Regions from separate parts of the Homo sapiens genome. Here region 1 is linked to region 2. Evidence: fine-mapped expression QTL. Tissue or cell type: nasal epithelium. Region 2 holds a variant in brackets; the other region holds the start of a gene. All regions are shown on one strand. Distances are from middle to middle.

Region 1 (17,195 bases), 64 kb before region 2:
ACATGTCATTTTCTTTTGGACAGAAATGCTAAATTTACTATTATTTGTTCATTTATTTTATGTTTTTCCAAAATGGAAACATCTTTCTGAAACAATGGGAAAGGGATCAGAATATGCCACCCCAGGCTGGGCATGGTGGCAGGGCCTATAATCCCAGCATTTTGGGAGGCTGAAGTGAGAAGATCCCTTGAGGCCAGGAGTTTGAGACCAGCCTGGGCAATAAAGCAAGACCCTGTCTCTACCAAAAACAAAATAAAATAAATTAGCGGGGCGGGGTAGTGTGTACCTGTAGTCCTAGCTACTTGGTTCAAGATGACAGTGAGGTATGATCACACTACCACACTCCAGCCTGGGCAACAACAAACAAGACCCTGTCTCTATAAAAAACAACAAAAAAAAAAACAAGCAAATAAAATGATAATAGTAAAAGTAAAAAAGAATGTGCCACCTCAAAACATGCCATATTGGCATAAGGATTATTTTGAGCTAAAGGCAACTGAGAAACAGCAGACACAAGCAAAACTCTTTGCCCTCTCTCTTTCTACCTACAAACGTTTGCCTAATTTCCCTTTGCAAAGGTGATGCCCTCTCCCATACCAGAATAAGGTGAACAATTCATCTGCATAACACACCTCACTAAACAAGCCTTAATTACCATGCCTTTCCCAGTTACCTTCCCACAATTTACCCACACCAGAGAAGCGCAGCCTCTCCCCATTTCCCTTGTCTAGTAGCTTCCCACACTTTATCATCCTCTGTTAAAATGCTGTATAAGCTCCTGGGTCTAAGCACCTCTTTGGGATTTTCACTTTTTTTCTGTGAAGCTTACATATGCAAACAAAATAAACCTTTTCGTTTTTGTTTGTTTTGTTTTGTTTTTGAGACAGAGTCTCACCCTGTCACCCAGGCTGGAGTGCAATGGTGTGATCTCGGCTCACTGCAACCTCTGCCTCCTGGGCTCAAGTGATTCTCATGCCTCAGCCTCCCAAGTAGCTAGAATTACAGACGCCCAGCTAATTTTTTGTATTTTTTGTAGAGACAGGTTTTCGCCGTTTTGGCCAGGCTGGTCTCAAACTCCTGACCTCAAGTGATCCACCAGCCTCAGCCTCCCAAAGTGCTGGGATTACAGGTGTGAGCCACTGCGCCCGGCCCTATTCGCCTCTTTTTATAAATTATATGTAACTGATGGTGTGTAAATTCTGTCCTGTCTGGCAATAATTTAATTGGTTCCCGCCATCCCCACCCTATGAAAATACCAGTTTTGTTTCCATTTGCAATTCATCTTAACATTCCTTTACTCCAGATAAATCTGTGCTTTTTGACTTTTCCTTTGAAATGTTTATAACGTACATCTGATTCCCTTATAGCATATGCGTAAATTCCTTAACAGATGTGCACTTTTATATTTGTATGAGTCATGATTTTATCTTTCTCTGAAAATTATTTTTTAACAACCCTTACATTGTTTACAGTGTTTCGATTCTGAAATCTTTGTGTATTTGTAAAATTTCCTACATAGGATAAATTCCTAGATGAATAGTTGTCCATAAGTATCCATGTTGTCCAAATGCCTTCTAGAAAGTTTGTAGAAATCTCTACAACAGAGAGCAGCACAGGAGTCTGTATTCCTACACCTTCATCTATATTATGTTTATCAATCTTTTTCAACTTTGCCAATCTGATAGGTAAAAAGTGATTTGTAGTTTTAATTTGCTTTTCTTCAATTCCTATTGAAATTGAGCATCTTTTTATGTGGATTTCTTCTTTAGTGAAGTATCTTATCATGCCCTTTGCCCATTTTTCACCTGGTGCATATTTTTACGTAAACACCCCTTTATTTGAAAAATTAATTTTTGCTTACATACTATTGCATATATTTTCTAGTTTGTTGACTTTTAACTTTGTTTATGATATATTTTGTTATGCATACATTTAACACTTTAATGTATTAACTATATCAAACTATTTTGTGTGTGATTTTAGCTTTGTTGCCATTCTGAGAAATGCTGCCTGCTCTTAAAAGGGATCAACCTGTTTCTTTTTAAAAACATTAAAGAACTTACATGTATGGGTTTTAGAAACATATTTCAGGCTTTACTCTACCTGGAATTTGCATGCTTAGGAGCCACACTTTCTTTTTTTCCTGGACAGTACATTTATGATTGAATTTGCTTTCTCCATGCTTTGAAAGTAGTACCTTACTCTTTTATGTCTTCCTCATGTTCTTTTCAATGTAATTTGATTAAATTTCTAAAACAATTCAAAACTAATTTTGTAGCATTTGTCAAAATAAATCTGGATTTAGGCAAGGGGAGACTTTATTCAAAAGGATTATTGCAAGAAGAGGATGGGTGGCTATCATAAAAGGATGAGGAGAGCTCTTTAGCCAGTGCTATTTTTCAGAAAAACAAGGCTCTGGCAAAGATCAACACTGTTGACCTCCCTTTTGTTAATGATAAAAGAATATTATTCACCACTGAGCAATTCAGATGCAATCCTAAGCCTCCTACATGGGGTGAGTCAGGGACTAAGAAACGGTCTCCTGGGGACTCTGGTTGGTGTTGTTCCCACAAAACCAGCTGAAGCATCTGTTGAAAGGTGGTGGCAAAAATCAGTTGTTTAAGGGTCAGGTATCTTAAAATGAGGAATGCCTACCATTAAAAAGATAAATGTTAATTAAAAGTTTTAATATAAAAGGCCAAAGAAATATTAATCTTGGCATCTACAAGCCAAGGAGAGAGGCCTCAGAAAAAGCCCAACTCTGCTGACACTCAATTTTGGACTTCCAGCCTCCAGAATTGTGAGAAAACAAAATTCTGTTGTTTAAAGTACCAGTCTATGGTACTTTGTTGACAGACCTAGCAAAGTAATATACCTACAGAGAAAACTATGAAGTAGATAATTAGCTGTCTGTCATATACCAGCATATTGTAGCAGACTAGTCAAGCTTAAGGTTATATATCTTGTGACTTTTTTATAGCCATACACTTCCTTATAGTACAACTTTTCTTTTCTTTTCTTTCTTTCTTTTTTTTTTTTTTTTTTGTTGTTGTTGTTGTTGTTTTGAGATGGAGTCTCTCTCTGTCGCCCAGGCTGGAGTGCAATGGTGTGATCTCGGCTTACTGCAACCTCCACCTCCTGGCTTCAAGTGATTCTCCTGCCTCAGCCTCCCGAGTAACTGGGATTACAGGCCCCTGCCACCACATCCAGCTAATTTTTGTATTTTTAGTACAGATGGGGTTTCACCATGTTGGTCAGGTTGATCTCAAACTCCTGACCTCAGGTGATCCACCCACCTTGGCCTCCCAAAGTGCTGGGATTACAGGTGTGAACCACTGCACCTGGCCTGTACAACTTTTCAGTGTGGCAAGAATGAACACATCATTAGCAGACCAAAATATATTTAGCCTCTCTGTACTAAAAAAAATTTACATAAGCTTTAAATTATGCTCCACTAGTCTATCTTACTTAGAAATGATCTAGGTACTTATATTAGACCATTCTTGTATCGCTATAAAGAACTACCTGAGACTGGGTAATTTATAAAGAAAAGAGGTTTAATTGGCTCACAGTTCTGTACGCTGCACAGAAAGCATGGCTTGGGAGGCCTCAGGAAACTTACAATCATGATGCAAGTTGAAGGGGAAGCAGGTACATCTTACACGGCTGGAGCAGGGGGAGGAGAGGCAGGGAGGAGGTGCCACATACTTTTAAACAACCAGATCTCATGAGAACTCCATGACAAGACAGCACCAAAGGGATGGTGCTAAACCATTAGAAACCGCCTCCAGGATTCAATCACACTCCATCAGGCCCCACTTCCACAACTGGGGACTACAATTCGATATGAGATTTGGGCAGGGACACTGATCGAAACCATATCACCCCCGAAGTGGGAAGGGCTCCCTACCCAGCTAGTTTCCCCTTCAGCCAGACCAGCTGTACCCTACTTAATCTTCAATCTAAGGAGCTTTACCTACCTGCCAGCCCACAGAACTATTTGAACAAGCCAATTACATCCTCCCGTGGAATAAAAGGTTACCTCACTCTTGTGCCATTACTACAAAGCCTGCCTCACACAGCCCCTGCTGCTTCAGTCTGCTTTCAAATGCAATTCCCATGTGGCTCTGCCTGGCATGCAATAACCTCCTCACCCCTTAGGCTGTGAGTATGTAACTGAAAAAACTGTAGCCAATCTCATCTGCCCAGTATTGGGTGTCATCTGTTCAGCCATCTCCTGTTTAGCACAGGAGATCCCTGCTTCACCAGTGCTGTGAAGAGAAGGTGGTCAGAACAGAAGGGAGGCCTAATCTTGAGTGACCATGAGTTGAGGAGCTGGAGTGGGTAGGAAAAGGTGTGTAGGAATGGGTAGATGGGTGAAGGAGGTGGACAGATTAAATCATTCAAGGCAACAAAAGAGAAGGTTTAAAGTGGTAAAAAGGAGGGATGAGGATGATGGGAAGGGAGAAGTCTTAGATGAGCTGGTTTAAGGAGATCTCATGTTTCCCAAAGAGGCCTTTGAGGTTCTAGGTTACCTTTAGTAAATTGTGCCATTTTTGAGGCTATTAAACTGAATTAGTGCCATAATAGCAGGTACTCAGTGGGGGAAGAGGAGGGCATCTGATAGAGTGAGAGTTACCCATGGCATTAGTGGATAGTCAGCCCAAAGAAAAGTCTTTAAAGGAGCCAAGAAAAACTCCCACTTGATTAATTCCCTTGAACAATCCCCAGGTCGAGGAGCTGAGGAAACACAGAAGTCTCACAGGAGGGCCAAAGCATCTCTTTGCCTGAAACAATCAAAGTAACCTCTTACTGTTCTTCAACAGACAAGATGGCCAGAGCACTGGTTCAAGACTTGAACTCACCCAAGAGTCCTCAAGTCCTGAACATGGCACCTTTACCTGGGTGGGGCTGGTGGAGGTCCCTAGGTGAGTTCCAGTCTTGAGCTGGATCACAGCAATGAGAACTGTCAAATAAAAACCAAATCCAGATCTAGGTAAGGAGAGACTTTATTTAGAAGGATTATTGCAATAGAAAAAGAGAATGTCGCAATAGGGGAGGGACGGCATTCTAATAGAATGCTTCAACCATAAGATCTGCAAGCTTTTGAAAGGTCAGGCAGAAAAGGGTTTTTCTTTTTTTGGTAGTAGTAAACAATGTTAAAAAGAACCAGTATCGGCTGAGTGCGGTGGCTCATGCCTGTAATCCCAGCACTCTGAGAGGCCAAGGTGGGAGGATCACCTGAGGTCAGGAGTTTGAGACCAGCCTGACCAACATGGTGAAAACTCGTCTAAAAATACAAAATTAGCTGGGCATGGTTGGTGCATGCCTGTAATCCCAGCTACTTGGGAGGCTGAGGCAGAAGAATCGCTTGAACCCGGGAGGCGGAGGTTGCAGTGAGCTGAGATTGCACCACCATTGTACTCCAGCCTGGGCAACAAGAGCGAAACTCTGTCTCAGAAAAGAAAAAAAAAAAAAAAAAAAAAAAAAAAAGAACCAGTATCAGGGAGTGGGATGAGCAGGTGGCCCAATCAGGCAACTGATCAGGACAGAGTTTCTTTGTGGTCAGCTGGAAAAGGGCTTCTTGGGAGGGGATGTGATATGGTTTGGCTGTGTTCCCACCCAAACCCCACCCAAATCTCATCTTGAATTGTAATCCCCATAATCCCCACGTGGTGAGGGAGGGGCTTGGTGGAGGTGATTGGATCGTGGGGGCAGTTTCCCCCGTGTTGTTTTTGTGATAGTGAGTGAGTTCTCAGGAGATCTGATGGTCTTATAAGGCTGTTTTCCCTGCTCTTGCTTGCTCTCTCTCATCTGCCGCCGTGTAAGATGTGCCTCTTCCCCTGCTGTCATGATTAAAAGTTTCCTGAGGCCCCCCCAGCCAGGCAAAACTGTGAGTCAATTAAACCTCTTTTCTTTTCTTTTTTTTTTTTTTTTTTTTTTGTTAGACAGAGTCTCACTCTGTCGCCAGGCTGGAGTGCAGTGGCATGATCTCAGCTCACTGCAACCTCCGCCTCCCGGGTTCAAGCGACTCTCCTGCCTCAGCCTCCTGAGTAGCTGGGATTACAGGCGTGCACCACCACGCCTGGATAATTTTTGTATTTTTAGTAGAGACAGAGTTTCACCATGTTGGTCAGGCTGGTCTCGAACTCCTAACCTTGTGATTCGCCCGCCTCAGCCTCCCAGAGTGCTGAGATTACAGGCGTGAGCCACCGCACCCAGCCTTTAAACCTCTTTTCTTTATAAATCATCCAGTCTCAGAAATGTCTTTATAGCAATGTGAAAGCAGACTAATACAGGACATTAAGGGGCTTATTCCAAATTCCAATGCTGGTTTAGGCTGAGACTAGATTAAAGGGCAAAGACCTGATGGAAGGAGAAAAGCCTCATTGAAGTTTGATCAAGTAAGGTATTTGCCCAGATTGATCAGTAGGGGCAAATGGTTCAGCTAACCATTTATAAGATGAGAATGGAAATTTGGAGCGCATGTCTATGGCCTTGTTGTAAGTGTGAAAGGATGTTATCCATGATGATTACCTAAGTCATTTGGGGAAAGGTGGTTCTATGTAGTTAGTGGTTTCTCAGAAAATACAGCCGGGAGAGGATGTTCACTGGTCTCCAGTAACACAAAGTATAGGTCAAGCAACACCATCCCCTTACTTTTTTTTTAATTTATTCTTATTTATTTATCTATTTTTGAGATGGAATCTTGCTCTGTCACCCAGGCTGGAGTGCAGTGGCATGATCTTGGCTCACTGGAACCTCCGCCTCCCAGATTCAACCGATTCTCGTGCCTCAGCCTCCCCAGTAGCTAGGATTACAGGCATGTGCCACCGCACCCAGCTAATTTTTATATTTTTAGTAGAGACGGGGTTTCGCCATGTTGGCTAGGCTGGAACTCGAACTCCTTACCTCAAGTGATCTGCCCACCTCGGCCTCCCGAAGTGCTGGGATTACAGGCATAAGCCACCATGCCCTGCCTCTGTCCCGTTATTTGATTGTACTTGTAACTATAGTTTTATTATGACATTTTAAGAATATATTGCTATTGTATTAATCATTACTATGACAGCTGTGTTTATCAGACACTTTCCCACATCTATAATATTAGGAGAGTTGGGTGTTTGTGATCATGAGTTTGCTCCTTGTGCTGGTTATTGAAGTATGTCTTAGAGTTCAAACTCAAGCTTCTATCTTCTGCTTTGTGAGCCAGGGCTGGGACTTAGCAAATCACATTTCCTATAAGGTTTTGCTTATAAGGGGTGCTTGAGGAGAGGGACTTGCTACTTTATAGCTGCTTACTGTTCCTGTCCATGTTACCAAGCAATGGCTCTTCTCCCTGGCTGCAGCAACAGCTGGTTCCAGTTTCTTAGATTTGTTTGTTTGTTTTAATCCACCCTCTCCCATCCAGCCTCAATATTTACCTTCAGAGATAAAAGCACCAGCTGGGTACCGCCCCCTCCTTTGAGGTCTGACTCCCAGCCAACCAGGGGCCCTCTCCTGGCTGTTAGGTTCTGATAACCCCAACACTTCCCCTCTCCCCAGCTCTGTGCATGGCAGCTGCTTCCTGCAGTTACTCTCTCTCTGTTACTACAATGTTTTTGCCTTGCCAATCTTCATGACCTTAAATTCTCTGTAAAAGTAATTGCTGTGATTTCTGTTTTCTGACTGGGCCCTGACTGATACACCCCTAAGCATTCCAGAAATACCTTCTAAACTACTTGTATAGATTTATGGGTGTATGTTATTGCAGGCATTAAAAATAAGTGGGCTGGGCAAGGTGGCTCACACCTGTAATCCCAGCATTATGGGAGACTGAGGTGGGTGGATCGCTTGAGCGTGGGAGTTCAAACCCAGCCTGGGCAACATGGTGAAACCCTATCTCTACAAAAAATACCAAAAAATTACCGGGCATGGTGGCACACACCTGTAGTCCCAGCTACTTGGGAGGTTGAGGTGAGAGAATCACCTGAGCAGGGGTAAGTTGAGGCTGCAGTGAGCTGTGATTGCGCCACTGTGCTCCAGCCTGAGTAACAGAGTGAGACCCTGTCACATACACAAACAAAATGGATTACACTTATGGTATACAGGCAGTATCCAACTGACAAACAAGATATATTCCAAAAGTTAATTCATAAATCTATTGCTTGGCCACCACCCCTGGTTAATTTATCTATTTTTATTTTGTAGAGGTGAGGTCTGGCTATGCTGCCCAGGCTGATCTCAAACTCCCAGGCTCAAGTGATACTTGTACCTCGGCTTCCTAAAGTGTTGGAATTACAAGCGTGAGCCATTGCAAACAGCCAGCTATATTTTATTTTTAATTAATTAATTTATTTATTTTTGAGATGGAGCCTTGCTTTGTCACGCAGGCCAGAGTGCAGTGGCACGATCTCAGCTCACTGCAACCTCCACCTCCCGGGTTCAAGCGATTCTCATGCCTCAGCCTCCTGAGTAGCTGGGACTGCAGGCACACGCCACCGCAGCTGGCTAATTTTTGTATTTTTAGTAGAGACGGGGTTTTGGTATGTTGGCCAGGCTGGACTCAAACTCCTGACTTCAGGTGATCCACCCACCTCGGCCTCCCAAAGTGCTGGAATTACAGGCATGAGCCACTGTGCCCAGCCCCGGCTATACTTTAAACTTATGTTTAGCAATTAACATGTCAGTATTTTAACTTACAAATGACTCAGACATTTAATGAATATCTATTACTTAATTTAATATGTTCGAAATTTCAAGTCACCAAAAAAGATTTTTAAAACTATTTTTAAGTAGACAAATTTTATAAAACAAATTATTTTTAAAAGTTTATAAACTTTTATTCCATTTACATTTACCTAATCTACTTGCTCTTAACAATTATGCTTGAATTGCTCATGAAAAATTTCATGAGATATTAAACAAAGCTAGCCATTGAAGGAGTTCAGGAGTTTTTCCCAAAATCATTTCCTCTCCCCTAAATTGTCCCTCCCCAATGAAGAGGATACACAAGCTCCTAAAATCTCAGTTTTTGTTGGGGGAGGCAGAGGGAATATTAGTTTTTCTTTTCTGTGATACCCCCTACACGAAATCTGTGTACTTTTTCTCTTGTTAATCTACCTGCAGTCAATTTATTTCATAGACTTAGTTATCCAAGCCTCAGAGAGTAGAGGGGAAGTCTTTCTTCCTCTATACCATCATCTTATGTTAATTTTTGTTGACAAATCAGGCAAGTGTCAAACATATCACAGTCTAATGGCCTCTGAGTTGGATTTTTTTTTTTTTTTTTTTTTTTTTGAGATGGAGTCTCGCTCTGTTGCCCAGGCTGGAGTGCAGTGACACGATCTCGGCTCACTGCAAGCTCCGCCTCCCGGGTTCACGCCATTCTCCTGACTCAGCCTCCCGAGTAGCTGGGACTACAGGCGCCCGCCACCACGCCTGGCTAATTTTTTGTATATTTAGTAGAGACGCGGTTTCACCATGTTAGCCAGGATGGTCTCGATCTCCTGACCTGGTGATCCGCCCGCCTCGGCCTCCCAAAGTGCTGGGATTACAGGCGTGAGCCACCGCGCCCGGCCAGAATTTTTTTTAAACAACATGGAAACAAATAAGACCTCGTTCTGTTTTCTAGGAGCTAAAAATCCAACGAAAGAAGACACAGACACAATATTCCCCTTGTTACAAAGAGAACTGTGTCAACTTTTATAACTGACACAAAGATCTGTGCTATAAGGGCGGGGAAGGTTTTTTCCTACTTTCCACAGCACTGTGGATTGTTCCACAGTTTAATTTGATCTTAATTTTTATGTGGAAATACACATGAATGTAATGAGTTCTTAAATGCTAAATTTAGGAAGCAAGGTTCGTTAGGGGAGAGAAAAAAACACCTACATGGTTATCTCTAAACTTTACATATCGAGAACCTTGGAATTTAATTTTATTGTTGTTCTGTAACATATTTTCATGTTTAAAATCAGAAAAGGCAGCATTTCTCGAGTTTCCTGCTTTCGAGGAAGGGAGGCATAAAATGTTTAAAAAGACGCCGCTCACACACCTCTTAAGAATCAGAGCACAGTGAGGAAGAGGAGCGAGGAAGCACTAGGATCGCAGCGCTACTCCCAGACCACGTCAGTGCCCAGAGGGCGCCCTCGCCTGTAGGCGGGAACCGCGAGTCCGCAGCAAGTCCCCAGCCCCGAGCTCGCGCAGGTGGGCGAGGCGGGGACGTGGTGGGCGGGGCCTAGAAAGGCGGGGCCTCTGGGGGCGGCCCCGGGGCGGGCCACGCTGGTGTGAGGGCTGCAGGCGCAGCTCCGGAGCGCCTAGAGCGCGGCGCGGGGCGGGAGCTTGGTGGAGCAGGAGCGGCTGGGCATCCTCCTGAGACTCCGGGGTCAGACGCCCACTCCAGGTAACCGGCTCTCCCTCGTGTTCCCCTGCTCGGCCGCCCGGCGGTGGGGGAAGGCTGAGAAGGATGGGTGGGAGGGAGCCGGCTCTCAGCCAGTGCCCCGTGGCCCCGGGCGGGCTGGGCTCCCCCGCGGAGGAGGAAGCAGAACCGGGGTGCGCCCGGGACCGGAATGGAGCGGCGCCTCTTCCTTCCACCTTCATTTTCCGTCCGCTCAGTGGGGCTGGGACGCCGGTGCCCCGTGTCCCCTGAAAGTCACTTTCTGGCCTCTTGCCCCTGGTCCGTGTAGCTTAGATGTCGGAGGGGTTGGCTGCGGGCGTGGATAGGCAGGGAACGAACAGACTCGCTGCCATCCCATGGGTGCCAGGGGCTTAACTTCATTTAACTTCATTGAATCCTAACGCCAGCCCGGCTAAGATGCATTTTCACCCCTACTTTACTGATAAAGAGGCCAACGCTAGGATAATAAATGACTCACCCTGGAGCAAACTATTACTAATAAGAAAAGAGACGTTAGTTTAGGGGCTCCGAAGCCTCTCCTTTCCTGCTCCCTCGCTTTCCTTCTTCTCGCGGCAGTCTAGGAAACTCGCGCGCAGGGTCTATTACGAAAACAAGTGATTCGTCTTAAAAGCATTTTACCCCCTCCTAGGTTTCTCTTTCCTCTTTTTTTTAAGTATCTCAGGCAGATTCCTCCAAGTTTTGGTTATTAGGTTTTTGAAATGGAAGAAGCCCTTGCTCACTGCTTCTTTTCTCCTGGCAGCGCTTTCTGCGCAGCACAGGCACCCTCGCCTGTCACGCCTCCCTCTCCTCTTCCCGTCTCCCAGCGTGGATGAGGGCGCCTGCAGATCCCGGCTAGGGCACGGACCGCCTAGGCCGAGGTAGGTTCTGTAGGCACCTGGCATGCTGTAGATGCATATAAACGTTGCCCTGTACACCCTTTGCCTTGTTATTTCTTTCTGCAGAAAAGAGAGTCGGTTTTTTACACATAATGGGGCAAGAGGCCAATTGGGAAGATATATGGTGTTCAAAGAAAGCCGTGGTGCCTTGAGATGAGAATGCGGCCACAGCTTTTTGTGGGCTGAATTTGATGGGTGGGAGGTGAGAGACGTGGTCTGGAAGTTGTCTCTTCGTCTGGCATTCTGCCCCCCTTCCAGAGCTGTTCTGAAAGGCCGGTTTGTTTTATAGAGGGGAGGAGGAGGGCTTAGTAGTTTTTAAAGATCAGTGTAAATTACCTGCTAGGAGCTTAGGCAATTCCAGGCAGGCCCCCCTGCTGGAGGCTTTCGTAACAGATTTCAGTTCTAGCAGGGAGGAAAACTCAGACTGTGTAGATACCTGCTTTTTCTTAAAGGAATTTTTTTCGGGCCCTTAAAATGGTAGTTTTGGGAAACTGATTTCTTAGAAATGGCAAACTCCTTTATTTTAAAATACAATATACCAAACTATGAATTTACTTTTAAAAAGTTTTATTGGCCGAGAGGTTGATATTTTTTCCATTTCATGATGAGGGTTTGACGGTCACTGCCACCTCCTCTGCCCGTCCTTCAACTTGGCCCTGTAAAGGATCTCCTTAGCCTTGGCCCCAAGTTTGTACTAGATTCTATCCTTCATTAATTATAGTTCATTCTTGATTAATGATAGCAATGCTTCCACTCACTTTTTAAGGAGTTACTCCTTTTCCGTTTGTAATTGAATTGCTTAACAGTAAGAAAAACGTTTTTCCCTAAAACTGGGATCACAAAATCCACTTTATCCACATGGACTAAACAGGTAATGCACAAGAGTGCTTGGTTGGGCCCAGGTGACTGCAGAGGAACCTGCTAAGGCTGGGTGGATATTGGCCATTTCCACCGAGTATCCATGCAGGAATTCCCATTCAGCCATACAGTGTAGGCAGCTTTTTTTTTTTTTTTTTTTTTCCACGAATAGCTGAGAACTTTTACTTAAAAATAAAAAATGTAAAGCCTGATTTTAAATATTGGCTCATATTTTTTCCTTTTTAGAACACAAAGAGGGCCGGGCGCAGTGGCTCACACCTGTAATCCCGGCACTTTGGGAGGCCCAGGCGGGTGGATCACGAGGTCAGGAGTTCAAGACCAGCCTGGCCAAGATGGTGTCTCTACTAAAAATTCAAAAATTAGCTGGGCGTGGTGGCTAGGCGCCTGTAATCCCAGCTACTCGGGAGGCTGAGACGGAGAATTGCTTGAACCCGGGAGGCGGAGGTTGCAGTGAGCCGAGATTGCACCACTGCACTCCAGCCTGGGTGACAGAGCGAGAGTCTGTCTCAAAAAAAAAAACACACACAAAGAGCCTGGGCATGGTGGCTCACACCTGTAATCCCAACATTTTGGGAGGCTGAGGCAGGTGGATCACTTGAGGTCAGGAGTTCAAGACCAGCCTGACCAACATGGCAAAACCCCATCTCTACAAAAATATTCAAAAATTAGCCAGGTGTGGTGGTGGGCACCTGTAATCCTAGCTACTCAGGAGGCTGAGGCAGGATAATTGCTTGAACCCGGGAGGCGGAGGTTAGGATGAGCAGGGATCGTGCCACTGCACTCAAGCCTGGACGACAGAGTGAAGCTCCGTCTCAAAACAAAAATCCCACAAAGAATAAAATCAAATTTGTTTCATGCATCATCTGTTTGCAAAACTCTGCCTTAAAAACTGCTACTGTACACGGTGATTATATTCTCCGATGAATGGAAAATTCTGAACTGTGATGTAGATATTGTACATTTTTCATGAAATGAAGTGGTAGAAAACAGAAATTACTACTGGAAATGATCCCTTCTGACTGTCAAATTCTGTTTTCTATGAAGTGTGTGGTATTTCAGCTATACTGTATTTTTTTTTTTTTTATAGAGCCAACCAAGGACTCTTGTCACTATTTTTATTTATTCTAATGAGAAATGTATTCATGGTTCCAGGTCAGTATGTCAAATGTCTAACTCCCTGTCTTAAAAAGGGAGTTCCCAAATGACTGTTCATATAACCATATGTGTTTCTTGTGGAGACTGTCTGTATTCTTGGCTTTGTCACTGGATTTGTGGCTTAGTGCTGTCACGTTTCCTATCTGAGGCAAATGCCATATATGTTTAGACCAGCCTTTCTCAATTGTGGCACTTTTGCCATTTTTGGCCAGTTAAATTCTGTTGTGGGGGCTGTCCTGTGCATTGCAGGATGTTTAGCAGCATCTCTGGCCTCTACCTACTAAATGCCAGTGCACCCTCCCTGCAGTTAAATGACCCCAAATGTCTCCAGACATAGGCAAATGTTCCCCGGAGAACAAAGTCATCTTTGGTTGAGGAACAAAATGAACCTATATTTAAGATGGTCTAAATGTTTCTGAGATGGTCTAAACATTTATAAGCTTAACAATTAACTTGAAACTCTTCAGGACTAGAGAAGCTATTTGTAAATTTAAACATCTGACGCCTTGAAACACCTTTATCATAAAGATAACTAAACCAGTGTTCTTTGTGAATGGCCAATGTGTCCTGCCAGTTTCTTTTTTTTTCTTTTTCCTATTCTGAGAAGCATGCCCTGCCAGTTTCTATCTCCAAAGAAATTTCAAGCGTTCAGTGTATTTGTTAAATTTCATAAAGTTTAAAAAGTTGAAAATGAAAAAGGAATTCTACGGTAGTTTTAAGTAGAATTTAGTTTTAAGAAAAATTAACCTCTTTTTAGCTAACAGCAATAAAACGAAGACTGCTGTGTATTTCTGTAATCTGAAAAATCTCGACTTTCTCAAAGGGAGCGCTACATAATGTATGATATAATTTATATCAGAAGAAAACATGTCCTAGAAATGTAACCCTCTTTCTTAGGACTTACATGTGCTCAGGGAGGTTGAAAACAACCTTGATTATGGAGGATGCCTCCTTAGCTGGGGATTAGCTATCCACTGTTCCCTTCCAGAAATCAAACTAATTTGTAAAACTCAGGACTGGCTACATAATTTGTGGGGCCCCTTGTTAAAAAAATTAAGAATTTGAACATGGTGACCACAGAGCATTAAGCCAAGCACGGCCCAGTGTGACTGCGTTGGTTGCCCACCCATGAGCTGGCCCTGGTGAAACTCTTTATTCATAGCTAAGAGTAAGGTTGTGGTCACAAATGCAAATCTAAACCGTGAAATGTTACTGCTGCCACTAGGCACCTGGAGTTTCTGCTTCCTTGATTGTTCTTCTGTTTCCAATGAGGAGTCTGCATGTATTTGGTCATCAATGCAATAATGTTACTAAGAAATCCTCCCATGATTGATTTTTCGTTTGCTAAAGAGGTAGCCAAATGTTTGTTCATTAGAGTCATGGGTACTGGAGCAACCTATTTATTCAGGCATTCATTGAACAACTATTTACTGAGCATCTGTTAGATGCCCGGCATTGCTCGCTCCAGGGCCACAGCTGTGAACAAGATGGAGGGTCCCTGCCTTTATGAGCTTATGAGCCAAACACATAGTCACACCGGCTCAGGCTATCACAATCTTAAGTGGTACTTAGGAAAGCACAGGGTGTTAGGGGAGCATGTGACCTTGAGACCTAACCTGGTTGAGGGGAGAGGGACTGTTCAGGGAAGACCTGCTTAAAAAATGATATTTAAAATAAGGCCTGGGGGCAGGTATGGTGGCTCACACCTGTAATCCTAGCACTTTGGGAGGCTGAGATGGGAGAATCGCTTGAGGCCAGGACTTTGAGACCAGCCAGGTCAACATAGCGAGACTCCCATCTCTTTTTTTGTTTTTTTTTTTTTTTGTAAAAATAATAATAAAAAAAAGGCTGAAGGATTAGTAGGAGTTAGTGAAGTACATTAGGGGATAAACTTAGAGGCTGAAAGAGTTGAGATCAAGAGTAAAATATGTCTTGGGTCATTTTTAGGATTTTGGACTTTAATGTCAGCATAGTGGAAACCCACTTTTTGTTTGTTTGTTTGTTGCAGACAGGGTCTCACTCTGTTGCCCAGGTTGGAATGCAGTGGCACCATCTTGGCTCACTGCAACCTCCACCTCCCAGGCTCAGGTGATCCTCCCACCTCAGCCTCCTGAGTAGCTGGGACTACAGGCACACGCCACTATGCCTGAGTAATTTTTGTATTTTTAATGGAGATGGGGTTTTGCCATGTTGCCCAGGCTGGTCTCAAACTCCCGAGCTCAAGCGATCTGCCCACATTGGCCTCCCAGAGTGCTGGGATTACAGGTGTAAGCCACCATCCCTGGCCACTAAAGTGTTTTTGATTTGTGGTTGTTTTGTTTGTTGAAGACAGTGTCTCACTTTGTTGTCCAGGTTGGAGTGCAGTGGCTATTCACAGGTGAGATCATAGCACACTTCAGTTGAACTCCTAGGCTCAAGTGATCCTCCCACTTCAGCCTCTCAAGTAGTTGAGACTATAGGCATGGGCTACCATATCTGACTAGAAGTAGTTTTATTTTAAACCCATCAAGTCCTGAGTCCTTCATGTTTTCTCTAAATTCTACTTAAAAATTGAATATACTTCTTTAGTTCATCTCTCTCACATTTTCTCAAAGGCAGATACTGGGCCAGATAGCACTTCCTACATTCTTCTCAGAAATGTTCTTAGGCAGATCCCTGATATGGTGAAATATCCTCTCAATTTTCCTTGTTAGGGCAGGCAGTAGTGTTGCTCACATTCCTCCAGTTCATTTTCTCCAGTTTCCAATGAGATTTTTTTGTTTTTGAGACAGTCTTGCTATGTTGCTCGGGCTGGAGTGCAGTGGCTATTCACAGGAGCAATCATAGCACACTGCCATCAAACTCCTGGGCTCAAGTGATCCTCCTGCCTCAGCCTCCCTTGTAGCTGGGACTGCATAGGCCCTGCTGTGCCTGACTCTGATTTGAGTTTTTTTTTTTTTATTTTTTTTTAGACGGAGCCTTGCTCTGTCACCCAGACTGGAGTGCAATGGTGCAATCTCGGCTCACTGCAACCTCTGCCCCAAGTAGCTGGAATTAGATGTGCGTCACCACACCCAGATAATTTTTGTATTTTTAGTAGAGACGGGGTTTCAGCATATTGGCCAGGCTGGTCTTGAACTCCTGACCTCAAGTGATCCTCTCACCTCGGCCTCCCAAAGTCCTAGGATTACAGGTGTGAGCCACCGCACCTGGCCTAATTTGAGTTTGTAAAATGATCGCTGTTGCTGTGTAGAGAATAGTTTAGAGAGGTAGGTCCTGCTGGCACGTTTGGTGTCTTTGTGCAAACCCAAGAAAGGCTTCTATTCTGTGTGGACCAATTAGAAAAAATGCACCACTGTGTCCCAGCTAGGCCAGGTCAAAAGGCTTCAGCCCCCTGAGCCAGACTTGTTACGCAGGCACAGCCTGTGCAATCATGTGGCCACCCTGGGGAGGAGGAGGGTGGATGTGAACAAACAGTGCTTTTGCAGTCACCCAGTGATGGCGTAGCAGCACTGGATAACGCTTAATGACAGGTGAGGATTGAGATTGAGTGAGATTGGGTTTGTAGTTAAAATCAGCAAGAAGGTGGTGATTATTTGGATATGGTTGATGGAGAGGGAGGTAGCAAGGATGATTCAAAAGTTTCTGGCATAAACAACTGAGTAGGATGGGATGGTGGAACCATTATGGTGATTGAGAACACAGGAGGAGGAGCGGGTTGGCACGAGGTGTGGGAGGGAAGATAATGCCTTTTTGGATGTGTGTTTTGTTTGTGAGACATCCAAGTAAAGATGAGGAGTAGACAGTTGCTACTCCTGGAAGAGATCTGGGGTGGAGATACATGTTTGGGAGCTGTTGCATGTAAGTATTACTGCATAAAAAGCACTCATCCAAAGAGGGTGTAGAAT
Region 2 (13,832 bases):
GGGTTTTCTATATACAGGATCATGTCATCTGCAAATTGAAACAATTTTACTTCTTTCTTTTGATTTGGATGCATTTCATTTCTTTTTCTTGCCTAATTGCTCTGGCCGGGTCTTCTGGTAGTATGTTGAATAGAAGTGGTGAGAGTGGAAATTCTTGTCTTGTTCCTAATCTTGGAAGAAAAACTTTCAGCTTTGCACCATTGAGTGTGATGTTAGCTGTGGGCTTGTCATATACGGCCTTTATTATTTTGAGGTACATTCCCTCTATACCTAATTCATTGAGAGTTTTTTAAATCACAAAACAATATTTAATTTTTTCAAATGTTCTTTCTGCATCTCTTGAGATCATCATTTTCATCCTTCATTCTGTTAATATGGTATATCACATTTATTGATGTGTGTACACTGAACCATCCTTACATCCTCATGATAAATCCCTCTTGATCATGATGTATGATCCTTTTAACGTGTTGTTGAATTTGGTTTACTAGTATTTTGTTGAGGATTTTTACATTTATGTTCATCAGCAATGTTGACCTATAGTTTTCTTGTTTTGTAGTGTCCTTGTCTGGCTTCAGTATCTGAGCAATGCTATTCTCATAAAATGAGTTTTAGAAGTGTTATCTTTTCAATTTTTTTTGAAAGAGTTTGGGACAAATAGATATTAATTCTTCTTTAAATATTTGTGAAGCTCTCTGGTCCTTGGCTTTTCTTTCTTGGGAGATTTTTGATTACTGATTCAGTCTCCTTATACATTATTGGTCTGCTGAGATTTTCTATTCTTCATAATTTAATTTTGGTAGGTGGTATGTTTCTAGTAATTTGTTCATTTCTTATAAGTTATCTAATTTATTGGCATATAATTATTCATAGTTGTCTCTTATGATCTTTTGAATTTCCGTGGTATGAGTTGTAATGTCTCTTCTTTAATTTAAAATTTTACTTGAATTCTCTCTTTTCCTAAATTAGTCTAGCCAAGGGTTTGTCGACTTTCTCTTTTCAGAAAACCAACTCTTAGTCTCATTGATCTTTCTACTGTTTTTCTATAATAGTCTCTATTTTCTCTATTTTATTTTTCCTGCTCTAATTTTTGTTATTTTCTTCCTTTGCTAACTTGAGGCTTGGCCTATTATTCTCTTACCTCCTTGAGGTATAAAGTTAGGTTGTTTAGTTGAGATATTTCATTTTTCTTAACGTAAGTTTTTTGATTTTTTGCTTGTTTGTTTTTAAGACAGGGTCTTGCTCTGTTGCCCAGGCAGAAGCACAGTGATGTGATCATGGCTCACTGCAGCCTCAACCTCCTGAGCTCAAGTGATCCTTCCATCTCAGCCTCCCAAGTAACTGGGACCACAGGCAGATGCCACCATGCCCAGGTAATTTCTTAATTTTTGTACAGAGGAGGTCTCACTATGTTGCCCAGGTTTGTCTCAAACTCCTGGGCTCAAGCAATCCTCCCATCTCAGCCTCTCAAAGTGCTGGGATTACAGGCATGAGCCACCATGCTTGGCCTCAATATTTGTTGCTCGTTCAGTATTTACTGCTATAAACTTCCCAGTGAAAGGAGATTTGAAGGGTGGTTTTAACCTTCTCCTTTATCTTAGGTGATCAATCACCTCAATTTACCCTGGACTGTGGAGGTTTCTGGGATACTGGGTTTGGGATGCTAAAATCAGAATAAGTTGGTCATCCCATCTTTATCTTCCCCCTAAATATCCAGTATAATATACATCAGTGCTTTAAAATGGAATTTATGTTTTATGGGCATTAGCAATTCAGAAATGTGCCTGTACACAGGCAAAGGGAAAGAACAGGGGAGCCACAAATAGGCTTAGCCACATACAGGTGATACACTCACACTTAGAGTATTGGGCACCAACAGGCGAAATTTCTGATTAAGAAGAGAATTATAACTGAGCAGAGCATTGGAGGACATCCTCTTATGGAACCTGAGAAGCCTAACCCAAACTATTTGCAGCCAGGTCACCTACCTCTGAAGGGGTCTTGGTGGATGGTTAGAAATCAGCATAAGTTTAATAAAGCTGGTTCCCGTTATCACACATCAACACACATCCTGAATTATACCTAGCAAACTTTGCAGCTTCTACTTTGGAAAATCCTTCCACAGTCTATCCAGGTACTGAAGCTGCCAAACCGAGCAGTGTCCTTGAATGTTCCTGTCTCCTCACACCCACTTACTAAGGCCTCTCTCCTTCACAGTGACTCCGTTCACATGCTCCCGTCTTGTCATCAAGCCCTGTTCATCTCTCACCATCTCTCACCTGGACCATTGCCAGTTTCTGAGCTGCCTGCTCTTGAATACCAGCTTCCTGAAAATATCACCAAAACGATCTGGTCCTCAGACAAAGCAGAGTCTATTGCTCACTGCAGTAACAGAGAGCTCCGTCTTCAGAGTCTTGGTAACATTTCGCTGAGAGGACAACCCAATCACACTGTTTAGGAGATTTTGGATTCTGACTAAGGTGAGTCTGACAATGTGGGGTCTTGGCAAATAATCATGATGAAATAGTTTAAGATGAGAAGACACAGCAAAGTAAGGATTTTGAGGCAAAGGGTTCAAACAATCTTAGAGTATAAACTGCTTTTTATTGATGTAACTCTGAAGATGTTCCTGGAGTAAAAAAAGGAAGTTATTTGCAAATTTTACCTCCAGGGTGAGAGCTTCTGGAATAAGAAATTTCTGCTGATGAAGATCGTAAACTGTGTGGGTGTAGCTGGTTTTGCCTGTCACCTCCATGCCTCCTATCTCAAACTCTTCCACTTCGTTAGCAACAGCAACAATAATAACAATAGTTACAATATGAGTAGCAGCAAATATTTAGCTCTCATTAAATGCCAAGCACTGTCCTAAGCATTTTACAAATACTGTCTCATTAAAGTTCGCCATAATCCTATGGTATTGGCACTATTTTTGTCCACATTATACAAATGTAAACACTGAAGCAGCTTAGAGAGGACAAGTTATTTGACCAAGTCACACAGTACCTTCCCACTGTCAGAGTTCTATCAGAAATGAAAATTTGATAATTGCACACTCTTGCATAAACTTTTTCAAAGATTCCCTGTTGCCTAAAACATAAAAATCTTGATTTCTTCAAATGGTACACAGAACACTCCATGATCTGGCCTCAGTCCCACCTCTCCAGTCTTCTTTATTGTATAGGTTGCTCTACCCATTCCTGGACCACACATGATGCTGTTTCACGTCTTCATGAATCGTGCTCATTTGGAGTTTTTACTCCTGGTATCTACTCATCATCCATCTAATAAAACAGTAGCCTGGGGAAACAGTCTCTTCCCTCACTTTCAGCCTGTTTGCATTGTCCCCACTTAATGTGAACTGAGAGTAAGAAGGTGCTGGGATTGTTGCACTCTCTTACAGGAAGCAGGAGAATTAACCAACACTGAGGAGAAATGGGGAGATACAAACTATCTCATGAGGCTGTCCTGCAAGCCCTGGAGCAAGCTGAGCCCAAGCCTGTTCATTTATATCATCCAATACATTTGATTGTTTAAGGGAGAGTGATTTTTTTTTTAAGCATTTCCATCGGAAAAGGTCTTCATTCACACTGCAGTCTGTTAGAACATATTTCTTCAGGCTTTCAGACTAGAACACCCTCACCTTTCAACATTCAGCTCAGATATCACCACCTCCATGAGGTTTTTTTGTTTTTGTTTTTGTTTTTGAGACAGTCTCGCTCCATCACCTAGGCTGGAGTGCAGTGGTGCAATCTTGGCTCACTGGAACTTCTGCCTCCAGAGTTCAAGAGATTCTCCTGCCTCAGCCTCCTGAGTAGCTGGGATTACAGGCGCCCACCATCACGCCTGTATAATTTTTGTATTTTCAGCAGAGACAGGGTTTCACCATGTTGGGCAGGCTGGTCTCGAACTCCTGACCTCAAGTGATCCACCCGCCTCGGCCTCCCAAAGTGCTGGGATTATAGGTGTGAGCCACTGCGCCTAGCCTATGAGATCTTTTCTGACCATCTGTGTCCCCCACGGCCTTACATAAATGTCCACTCTTTTCTCTGGCTTCCACAGTATCCTAGACAGAATTAATCACCATCATCTAAAATAGGCCATTGAACTTACTTGTGCACATATGTGTGATTTTTTTTTAAATCAACTTTATTTTTTAGAGCAGTTTTAAGTTCACAGCAAAATTAAGTGAAAAGTACAGAGAATTTCCATATTCCCATATACCCTCTACCTTTCCTGTCCCCAATTAATATTGGGGGATAATAGAAATATCCCCAATTACCTCCCCACTTTTATTTATTTATTGAGATGGAGTCTTGCTCTGTCACCCAGGCTGGAGTGCAGTGGCGCCATCTCAGCTCACTGCAACCCCTGTCTCCTGGGTTCAAGTGGTTCTCCTGCCTCAGGCATGCGCCACAACGCCTGGGTAATTTTTGTGTCTTTAGTATAGATGGGGTTTCACCGTGTTGGCCAGGCTGGTCTTGAACTCCTTACCTCAGGTGATCTGCCCACCTCAGCCTCTCAATGTGCTGGGATTACAGGCGTGAGCCACCGCGCCCAGCCATTGCTGCTACTTTTAATGGCAAAACCCACAATTACTTTTGCACCAACCTAATAAATCGATAAAGTCAATTAATTTGCTTAATTTTGATTAACCACTCTTAAGGGAAAAAAATAATTTTAGATATTTTTTCCTCAAATAGAAACCATAAACAATCGAGGGGGAAAATACGGACTTACTGATAACCTTTTATAATTTGGCTGAATTCAGCTTGTCTTTATTCTCCCTGTGAAATAAAACCTTACTGAAAACTAAACACCGCACCTGAATTAAAGTGTCCTGTCAGGTTTTTTTCCTGCCCACAAATATTTCTGTTCAGGAAATTTGATCTTTAGGAATCTAATGTCCTTTCCTCACTGCCTAAGCATGCAACTGAAATAACAGGGTGGGTGGACTGATCCCTCATGTG[T/C]GGTTACAGAGCTGCGGGCTCAGGCAGGTCGAAGTTCCTTCTGTTCACCAGGAGAAGAGAAGAAAGAACGAGGAGCCGGAGACAGTGCACTTTTGTGGGTCTCCAGCTGCATTCTTTCCCAAGCCATTTCTAGAAACTGCATGAGGGAGGTCAGGGTACACCTGTTTCCTAGGAAGCTGGACTCCACTTCGCATGAAGTGCAAACAAGGAAATAGGGATGGAGAGTGAAAACAGGGAAGAGTATGAGTGCAAAAGCTTGAAAAAAAATAGTATGCATTTTTGACTTAGGAGGGCAACAATAAACCAGTGGGACAAGAGAGAGGAAAGCCTTCCCCAGGAATCTTTCCTCATAACTTTGCGTGGTAGGTGGGCTGTGGGGACAGACATGATTCAGTACTGCTGTGTCACTTAACAGTTGAATCTGCCCTGGAGTGCAATGTCAGACGATGAGAAATTGCCTACTCTAATTTTTATAGCCATTTAAGAATGTTTCCCTCTACCTGGGCACTATTGACATTTTGGGCTAGATAATTCTTTGTTGTGGGGGTGGAGGCTGTCCTGTGCATTATGAATGTTTGGCAGCAGCCCTGGTCTCTACCTGTTAGATGCCAGTGGCAACCCCAACCCAACCCCAAGGCATCATCTTGTGATAAAGATGCCTCCAGACATTGTGAGATGTCTCTTGGAAGGTAAAATCGTCCCTGCTTGAGAACCCCTGATTTATAGGAATAATTTCGTTTCCATCGCAGTGCCTGTCTTATATTGGGCAGAGTGTTTACTATGTGAAAGTTACTGACTAGGTACAGGTTTACCTTGGTGAACCAAATATTCATGATTGCTGCTCGTATGGGACTTAAATCTGATGAGTGAAAAGATGGATGGGTGAATGTAGGATGTCTCAAAAAGCAGATGTGATTTCTCTTAGGAATCAACCAGTGTTAAAAAGAAAAAATGTCACCCAGCCTACTTCCTTTCTACTCAATCACAGGGGGTTAAAAAGAATCCTTGTGTGAGGCAGGCCAAGGAGTCCCCCATCAGATAACTCAGGAAAAAAAAGCAATAATGTTGGCTGGGCATGGTGGCTCACACCTGTAATCCCAGCACTTTGGGAGGCTGAGGCAGGCAGATCATGAGGTCAGGAGTTCGACACCAGCCTGACCAACATGGTGAAACCCCATCTCTACTAAAAATACAAAAATTAGCCTGTTGTGGTGGTGCGTGCCTGTAATCCCAGCTACTCAGGAGGCTGAGGCAGGAGAATTGCTTGAGCCTGGGAGGCGGAGGTTGCAGTGAGCCGAGATCATGCCACTGCACTCCAGCCTGGGTGACAGAGTGAGACTCCGTCTCAAAAAAAAAAAAAAAAGGACAATGATACCTATGGACTATATGACAGGCTTTTGGAAATATAAGGAAACTAGATACAGTGTATTACAAATAATTTTCAAATACTAGACTGCTTCAAAATCAAATAAAAGGGTTGGTAAAAACAGATGTCTGGGCTCTACCTTATGTTTTAAAATCTATGAGGGTGAACCAGGTATGATTAATTCTTTTTTAAAAAAGATATATACATGTACACATATATTTAATTGAGACAGGTTCTCACTATGTTGTCCAGACTGGTCTCGAACTCCTGGGCTCATGCAGTCCTCCAACCTCAGCCTCCCAAGTGCTGAGATTACAGGCATGAGCCACCACACAGCCAGCCAGGTATGATCACTTCTTATTATTCATGGTAGTTATGTTCTATAAACTCATAGCAAACACTAAATTAGTGAATATTGGACTATTGCTGCAAGGGGAAATATAAGATGAGGCTCCTGAGAACCTCTGGTCACTACATTTTTGTCAATTGATATGCCATTTGCGTTCTATAGGTTCATTTTCCAACTTCCTTGTAAAACAAGCCAGTCTCACCAGGGTTGAAAATCGTCTCTTCCAGTAACCCTTTTCCCATAGAACACTTAGCAAATATTTAAAAAACTGTTCCACAGCATTCTGATCTGCAGAACCTACCCCTCCCACAGGTTTAACATTTTTCCATGCCTCATCGCCTTTTGAAACGTGTGGGCCAGTCAGCACTAGCCACAAAGGGTTTAACACTTTTCCATAAATTTCTTGGCTTTCAGCCTCACAGAAATGCTGTCCACTATGTTTTTTTTTTTTTTAATCTGTCATCATCTCATGAATACACCCATTTAGCCACTCTTCCATCTTATTCGTAGATCTAAGATGCACTATAGATGTTACTTTAGCGCTTTCTGGAGCAGTGTCACACCCGACTGGGAAATGTCCCCTTCCTTTTTAGGTGTACAAGATTGTTGACTCATTCACATTGAACTGTAAGTCGTGCCTGAACAAAGCTTATCTAGCACACATTTTCTCTCTGTAAGGCAGGTCACAGCCTTCCTGCACTTACGAACACTAGGCAGCGCTTTCAGTGCTATGCCTGGGGCCTATTTACTTATTACTTATTGAATATCTAATTTTAGTCCCAAAACCTTTTATTCAGTCCTCAAATTGTTACCATGAAAGAAATGATAAATTGCAATTTTATTATTACCCTATCACTGCGTATCAAGCCCTTGTTACAAAGTCTCCATTTACTGTCTCCAAAAAACCAACAGACAACCCACAAATTATATTACCTAATGATCTATTAACAGATGACCCAAGCTTCTCCAAGTGTGCCCCCCGACCAGTAGCAACAACATTACCTTGTTTGGCTGGTGGTGATGGCTCACTCATACCTGTAATCCTAGCACTTTGGTAGGCCAAGGGGGAAAGATGGCTTTAGTCCAAGAGTTCGAGACAAGCCTAAGCAACATAATGAGACCTTGTCTCTACAAAAAATAAACAAAATTAGCCAGGCGTGGTGGCACACACCTGCAGTCCCAGCTACTCAGAAGGCTGAAGCAAGAGGGTCACTTGAGCCCAGGAGGTCAAGTCTGCAGTGAGTCATGATCACACCACTGCACTCCAGCCTGGGTGACAGAACAAGACCTTGTCTCAAGAAACAACAACAAAAAAGAAGAAAAGAATCACCTTATCTGAAATGCAATTTTCAGACCCTAACTTAGAACTACTAAAGTAGAGACTTGGTAGGTGGAAACCAGCAACCTGTGCTTTATCAAGTGCTTTTTTTTTTCTTTCTTCTCTTGAAACAGAGTCTCACTCTGTGTTCCAAGCTGGACTGCAGTGGTGTGATCTGAGCTTACTGCAGCCTCCACCTCCAGGGTTCAAAGGATTCTCAAGCCTCAGCCTCCCGAGTAGCTGGGATTACAGGTGCACACCACCACACCCAGCTAATTTTTGTATTTTTAGTAAAGATGGAGTTGTGCTATGTTGGCCAGGCGGGTCTCTAACTCCTGGCCTCAAGCAATCTACCCACCTCAGCCTCCCAAAGTGCTGGGATTACAGGCATGAGCCACTGCGCTGGGCCTTTATCGAGCTTTTTAAGTGATTCTGATGCATCCTCAAGTTTGAGAACCACTGGAATAGACAAATGTTTATTGACATGAAAAGTCCACAATACAATGAGTTAAACAAGAACACACTGCAAAAGAATATATACAGTGTGATCCTAGTTTTGAAATATTTACACATATGTGAATGTATAAAAACAGATCTGTAAAGCTATACTTTAAAATGGTAATGTGTCCGGAATTGGTGGGTTCTTGGTCTCACTGACTTCAAGAATGAAGCCGCGGACCCTCGCAGTGAGTGTTACAGTTCTTAAAGGCAGCGTGTCCGGAGTTTGTTCCTTCTGATGTTCGATGTGTTCAGTTTCTTCCTTCTGGTGGGTTCGTGGTCTCGCTGGCTCAGGAGTGAAGCTGCGGACCTTCCTGGTGAGTGTTACAGCTCTTAAGGCGGCCCGTCTGGGGTTGTTTGTTCCTCCCGCTAGGCTCGTGGTCTCGCTGGCTTCAGGAGCGAAGCTGCAGACCTTCGCGGTGTTACAGCTCATAAAGGCAGTGTGGACCCAAAGAGTGAGCAATAGCAAGATTTATTGCAAAGAGCGAAAGAACAAAACTTCCACAGTGTGGAAGGAGACCCCAGCGGATTGCCCCTGCTGGCTCGGGCAGCCTGCTTTTATTCTCTTATCTGGCCCCACCCACATCCTGCTGATTGGTAGATCCGCGTGGTCTGTTTTGACAGGGTGCTGATTGGTGTGTTTACAATCCCTGAGATAGACACAAAGGTTCTCCAAGTCACCACCAGAGTAGCTAGATACAGAGTGTCGACTGGTGCATTCACAAACCCTGAGCTAGACACAGGGTGCTGACTGGTGTGTTTACAAACCTTGAGCTAGATACAGAGTGCCGATTGGTGTATTTACAATCCCTGAGAGAGACATAAAGGTTCTCCACGTCCCCACCAGACTCAGGAGCCCAGCTGGCTTCACCCAGTGGATCCCACACAGGGGCTGCAGGTGGAGCTGCCTGCCAGTCCCGCGCCGTGCGCCTGCGCTCCTCAGCCCTTGGGTGGTTTCATGGGACTGGGCGCCATGGAGCAGGGGGCGGTGCTTGTCGGGGAGGCTCCCGCGGCACAGGAGCACACGGTGGGGCAGCGGGGGGAGGCTCAGGCATGGCGGGCTGCAGGTCCCAAGCCCTGCCCCGCAGGAAGGCAGCTAAGGCCCAGCGAGAAATTGAGCACATCAGCTGCTGGCCCAGGTGCTAAACCCCTTACTGCCCGGGTCCGGTGGAGTCGGCCGGCCCCTCCAAGTGCGGGGTCCGCTGACCCTACCCACCCGGAACTCGCGCTGGCCCGCAAGCACGGCGCGCAGCCCCGGTTCCCGGCTGCGCCTCTCCCTCCACACCTCCTTGCAAGTTGAGGGAGCCGGCTCTGGCCTTGGCCAGCCCAGAAAGGGGTTCCCACAGTGCAGCGACGGGCTGAAGGGCTCCTCAAGTGCCGCCAAAGTGGGAGCCCAGGCAGAGGAGGCGCCAAGAGCAAGCGAGCGCTGTGAGGACTGCCAGCACGCTGTCACCTCTCAGTAACAATTGTTATCACTGGGTAAGGAGGTTACAAGGGATTCTTTCCTTTTTTTTAACGTTTCATTTGAGTTTCAGATGTTTCTACCATGAATAACAATTTCTTATGCAATTTTAAAAGAGAGCAAAATAAATTCCATGAGGAAGAATTTGACAGATAAGGACCCATCTGTGTCCCCGAGTTCTATTCCCTGCCTGTGGAATCACTCTCCTCATGCTCATAGCCATCAACAAACTGGTACCTACAGAGCAAAATTTCCCTCTGGGTCTCTCAAGCAAGCAGAAACACAATTGCTTTTCTTGATGTCCCTTGGCACAGCTGGAATTTTGTATTAGGGTTCTCTAGAGGGACAGAACTAATAGAATAGATGTATATATGAAGGGGAGCTTATTAGGAGAACTGACACACACAATCGCAAGGTTAAGTCCCACAACAGACTGTCTGCAAGCTGAGGAGCAAGGAAGCCAGTCCGAGTCCCAAAACCTCGAAAGTAAGGAAGCCGACAGTTCAGCCTTCAGTCTGTGGCCAAAAGCCTGAGAGGCCCTGGCAAACTAATGGTGTAAGTCCAAAAGTCCAAAAGCTGAAGAACTTGGAGTCTGATGTTCAAGGGCAGGAAGCATCCAGCACAGGAGAAAGACGGAGACCAGAAGACTCAGCAAGTCTCCTCTTCCATCTTCTCCTGCCTGCTTTATTGTAGCCACACTGGCAGCTGATTAGATGGTGCCCACCCAGACTGAGGGTGGGTCTGCCTCTCCCAGTCCACTGACTCAAATGTGAATCACCTTTGCCATCACCCTCACAGACATACCCGGGAACAATACCTTGCACCCTTCAATCCAATCAAGTTGACACTCAGTATTAACCATCACACCTATCTGAAAGAAATAATTTTGTTAATTCTGTAAATAATTTTTTAAAAATTCTGTTGATAGTTCAAGTCCAAAAAAATTGATTAAAAAAAATTCTTCAGGGTTAAGTGGCTACTCTATTCGCAGTAGCCCTTCCTCTAAGGTTTTTCTTTCTAGTCTCCTTTCCCCCTCACTCAGCTCTTAATTCCTGCCAATAACTGAGAGTGAAGAGACAGTCACCTTGCTTCCGGGTCTCTCAGTCCTCTACTGGCCTTTGGCTCCAGATGTTTCCTTAGCACTTGCATAGTACCCAGAGTATTTTAAGTGGTGACTGATCTGCAGGTGCAGATCTCACTTGGCCCCCATAGCATTGGGACCCATGCAGATTCCATTGTGTTACAGTGACTGTAACTTATTTTAAAAGATCTCAGCATATACATCGTGATATTTTGTATCTGTTATTTGTTTATTTAGAGACAGGGTTTCATTATGTTGGCCAGGCTGGTCTTGAACTCCTGACCTCGGGTGATCCACCTACCTCGGCCTCCCAAAGTGCTGGGATTACAGGTGTGAGCCACCACGCCTGGCCAATATCTGTTACTTAGATGAAGCCAAAACCTTCAGATAATTTATAATGCATAGTTAAGGCATGATCAGTTCACATTAAATCAGAAAAGGTTCCATCCCAGAGATGGCTTCATCAAACTAACACTTTGCTATTAAACATACTGAATGTCTGAAAAGGGATTTCACTGGAGAAACTAGTAACTTTTGTCAAGAAGCAGTTATTTAGCATGATTCTTAGAAATGAGCTCTCATTTGTGATGCTAAAGGTATTCAAAATATGAGGACTGGCTAAAAATACCTTAAAGAGACTCCTAACTCTTGTATGGGTGGGGGTGTAACAATTAAGGAAGACCTAAAATCTAGCTTGCTCCCTGAGTTGTCCTATAAGCAGCTGTTGGTATAGGAGGATTTCTGAATGATGCCAGTTGGAAGAGAGAGACTCCTGCTTCTGAAGTGCTGTTGTGTGCTGCTTGTAAGCATTTCATGCAATGTGTGATTGGATCACCTAAAAGAGTACAGAGCTAGAATTTCATTACACCAACAGGACAGTACCAACTCCTTAGTGGTGACTAATGAATGTTTGCATAGTAAACACCTATGTGGGTGACAGGATTTGGGCTAAGATTTCTTTCCTGTAACCTGATTGTGAGATTATGAAAGCACAGCTAAATCTCACTCCCTCAAATTTCTTTAGTGTCTACTATCTTCTAACAGAAACAATCTAAGGGTTGAGCACGACCAAACTGACTTGAATCAATTCACTGTGTTCTTACACAATTTCCTGTAAGGACAGACACCCTTCATTCCTTTGAGGCACATCCTTTTATCCTTGTCTAGGATCCCTGGTGAGGTCTTCTGACTCTTTCATGCACCACTCAAGACCAATATAATCTTCTCTCATGCTACTTCTGAGCCATGAGGAACCTGGAAGGAGGGCATCTCTGTCCTTTTCGTGGGACAAAAAAGTGAATGTAGGAAATCATATCAGCTAATATCACATATCATCCTTCCATACCTGTAACACATATACAGGAGTTAAACACAATAGCAAGAAAGAAATTCCTTCAATTAGGCTGGGTGCGGGGGCTCATGCCTATAATCCCAGCACTCTGGGATCCAAGGCAGGTGGATCACCTGAAGTCAGGAGTTTTGAGACCAGCCTGGCCATCATAGCAAAACCCCATCTCTACTAAAAATACAGAAATTAGCTACGTGTGGTGGCAGGTGCATGTAATCCCAGCTACTCCGGAGGCTGAGGCAAGAGAATCGCTTGAACCTGGGAGGCAAAGGTTGCAGTGAGCCAAGAGCGTACCAGTGCACTCCAACCTGGGTGACAGAGCAAGGCTCCGTCTCAAAAAAAAAAAAAAAAAAAAATCCTTCAATCAAATTCCCCAGTTCTTACACAGATACCTCACAATAGTGGTGTTATTGATATTTTTGGGTAAGAGGAAAATCTTTCTTTTGCCCAACTATCCCTACCTTGCAAGACTTTTAGCATTCTTTGACCTTGCCCACTAAAAGACAACAGTTTAAATAAAATTTTTAAAAGATCATTAGATATTTTGAAATGCCTCCAAATGGAAAAAAATTGGCCTGCTTAAGAACTGCTGTACTAATGGTCTCCCAACTGTTTCACAGGTCTCAGGGAAGGCCACAGAAGGCTTCAGTGGCTGAATAGAAAAGTAGGTGGTTGAGGGGTCAGCCTCCTATCCTTGCCTCAGAACACAGAACATGCCTCAGGGCAAAGTGACTGACTTCGCAGGCTGTGATGATAGCTGTTATATTCTTTTCGAGAGAGGGGATTTCACTGTCACCCAGGCTTAAGTGTAGTGGTGGGAATCATAGCTCACTACAGCCTCGACCTCCCAGGCTCAAGCGATCCTCCTACCTCAGCCTCCCAAGTACCTGGGACCACCACATGTGGCTAAGTTTTTAATTTTTATTTTCGTAGACATGAGGTCTCGCTAAGCTGCCCAGGTAACTCCTGGGCTCAAGTGATTCTCCCACTTTTGCCTCCCTAAGTGCTGGGATTACAAGCATGAGCCACTATACTGGGCCCCCCATTATATTCTTCATAAGTAAAAGCATATCCAGAAATTTTCATTTCCAGTTGATCTTTACGCTGCTTTCTTGACCATTTCTCTGAAGGTGCCTGGAGCAAAAATGTGTCCAGAATTGGTGGGTTGTTGGTCTCGCTGACCTCAAGAACGGAGCCGTGGACCCTCGCGGTAAGTGTTGTGTCCCGAGTTTGTTCCTTCTGATGTTCAGATGTGTCCAGAGTTTCTTCCTTCTGGGGGGTTGCTGGTCTTGCTGACTTCAGGAGTGAAGCTGCAGACCTTCGCAGTGAGTGGGCGGCGCATCTGGAGTTGTTCGTTCCTTCCAGTGGGTTCGTGGTCTCACTGGCCTCAGGAGTGAAACTGCAGACCTTTGCTGTGAGTGTTACAGTTCATAAAGGTGGCAC

The links. PIP is the estimated chance that this variant, and not a neighbour inherited with it, causes the effect.
Region 1: it holds the start of GCNT1, and the variant in region 2 is fine-mapped to the expression of GCNT1 in nasal epithelium (TOPMed, PIP above 0.99).

The regions. Positions count from the first base shown.
Region 1 is chr9:76,448,922-76,466,116 of GRCh38, forward strand. It overlaps GCNT1 (glucosaminyl (N-acetyl) transferase 1), which reads left to right and starts at 10,261. Exons shown (of 4, transcript NM_001490.5): 1 at 10,261-10,384; 2 at 11,139-11,256. RefSeq lists silencers at 10,046-10,585, 11,576-11,645, 14,482-14,531 and an enhancer at 11,196-11,305.
Region 2 is chr9:76,514,297-76,528,128 of GRCh38, forward strand. LOC124902184 (a long non-coding RNA gene) reads left to right here and starts at 1,232. Exons shown (of 2, transcript XR_007061585.1): 1 at 1,232-1,373; 2 at 2,218-2,912. The variant T/C (reference allele first, on the strand shown) is at 4,968.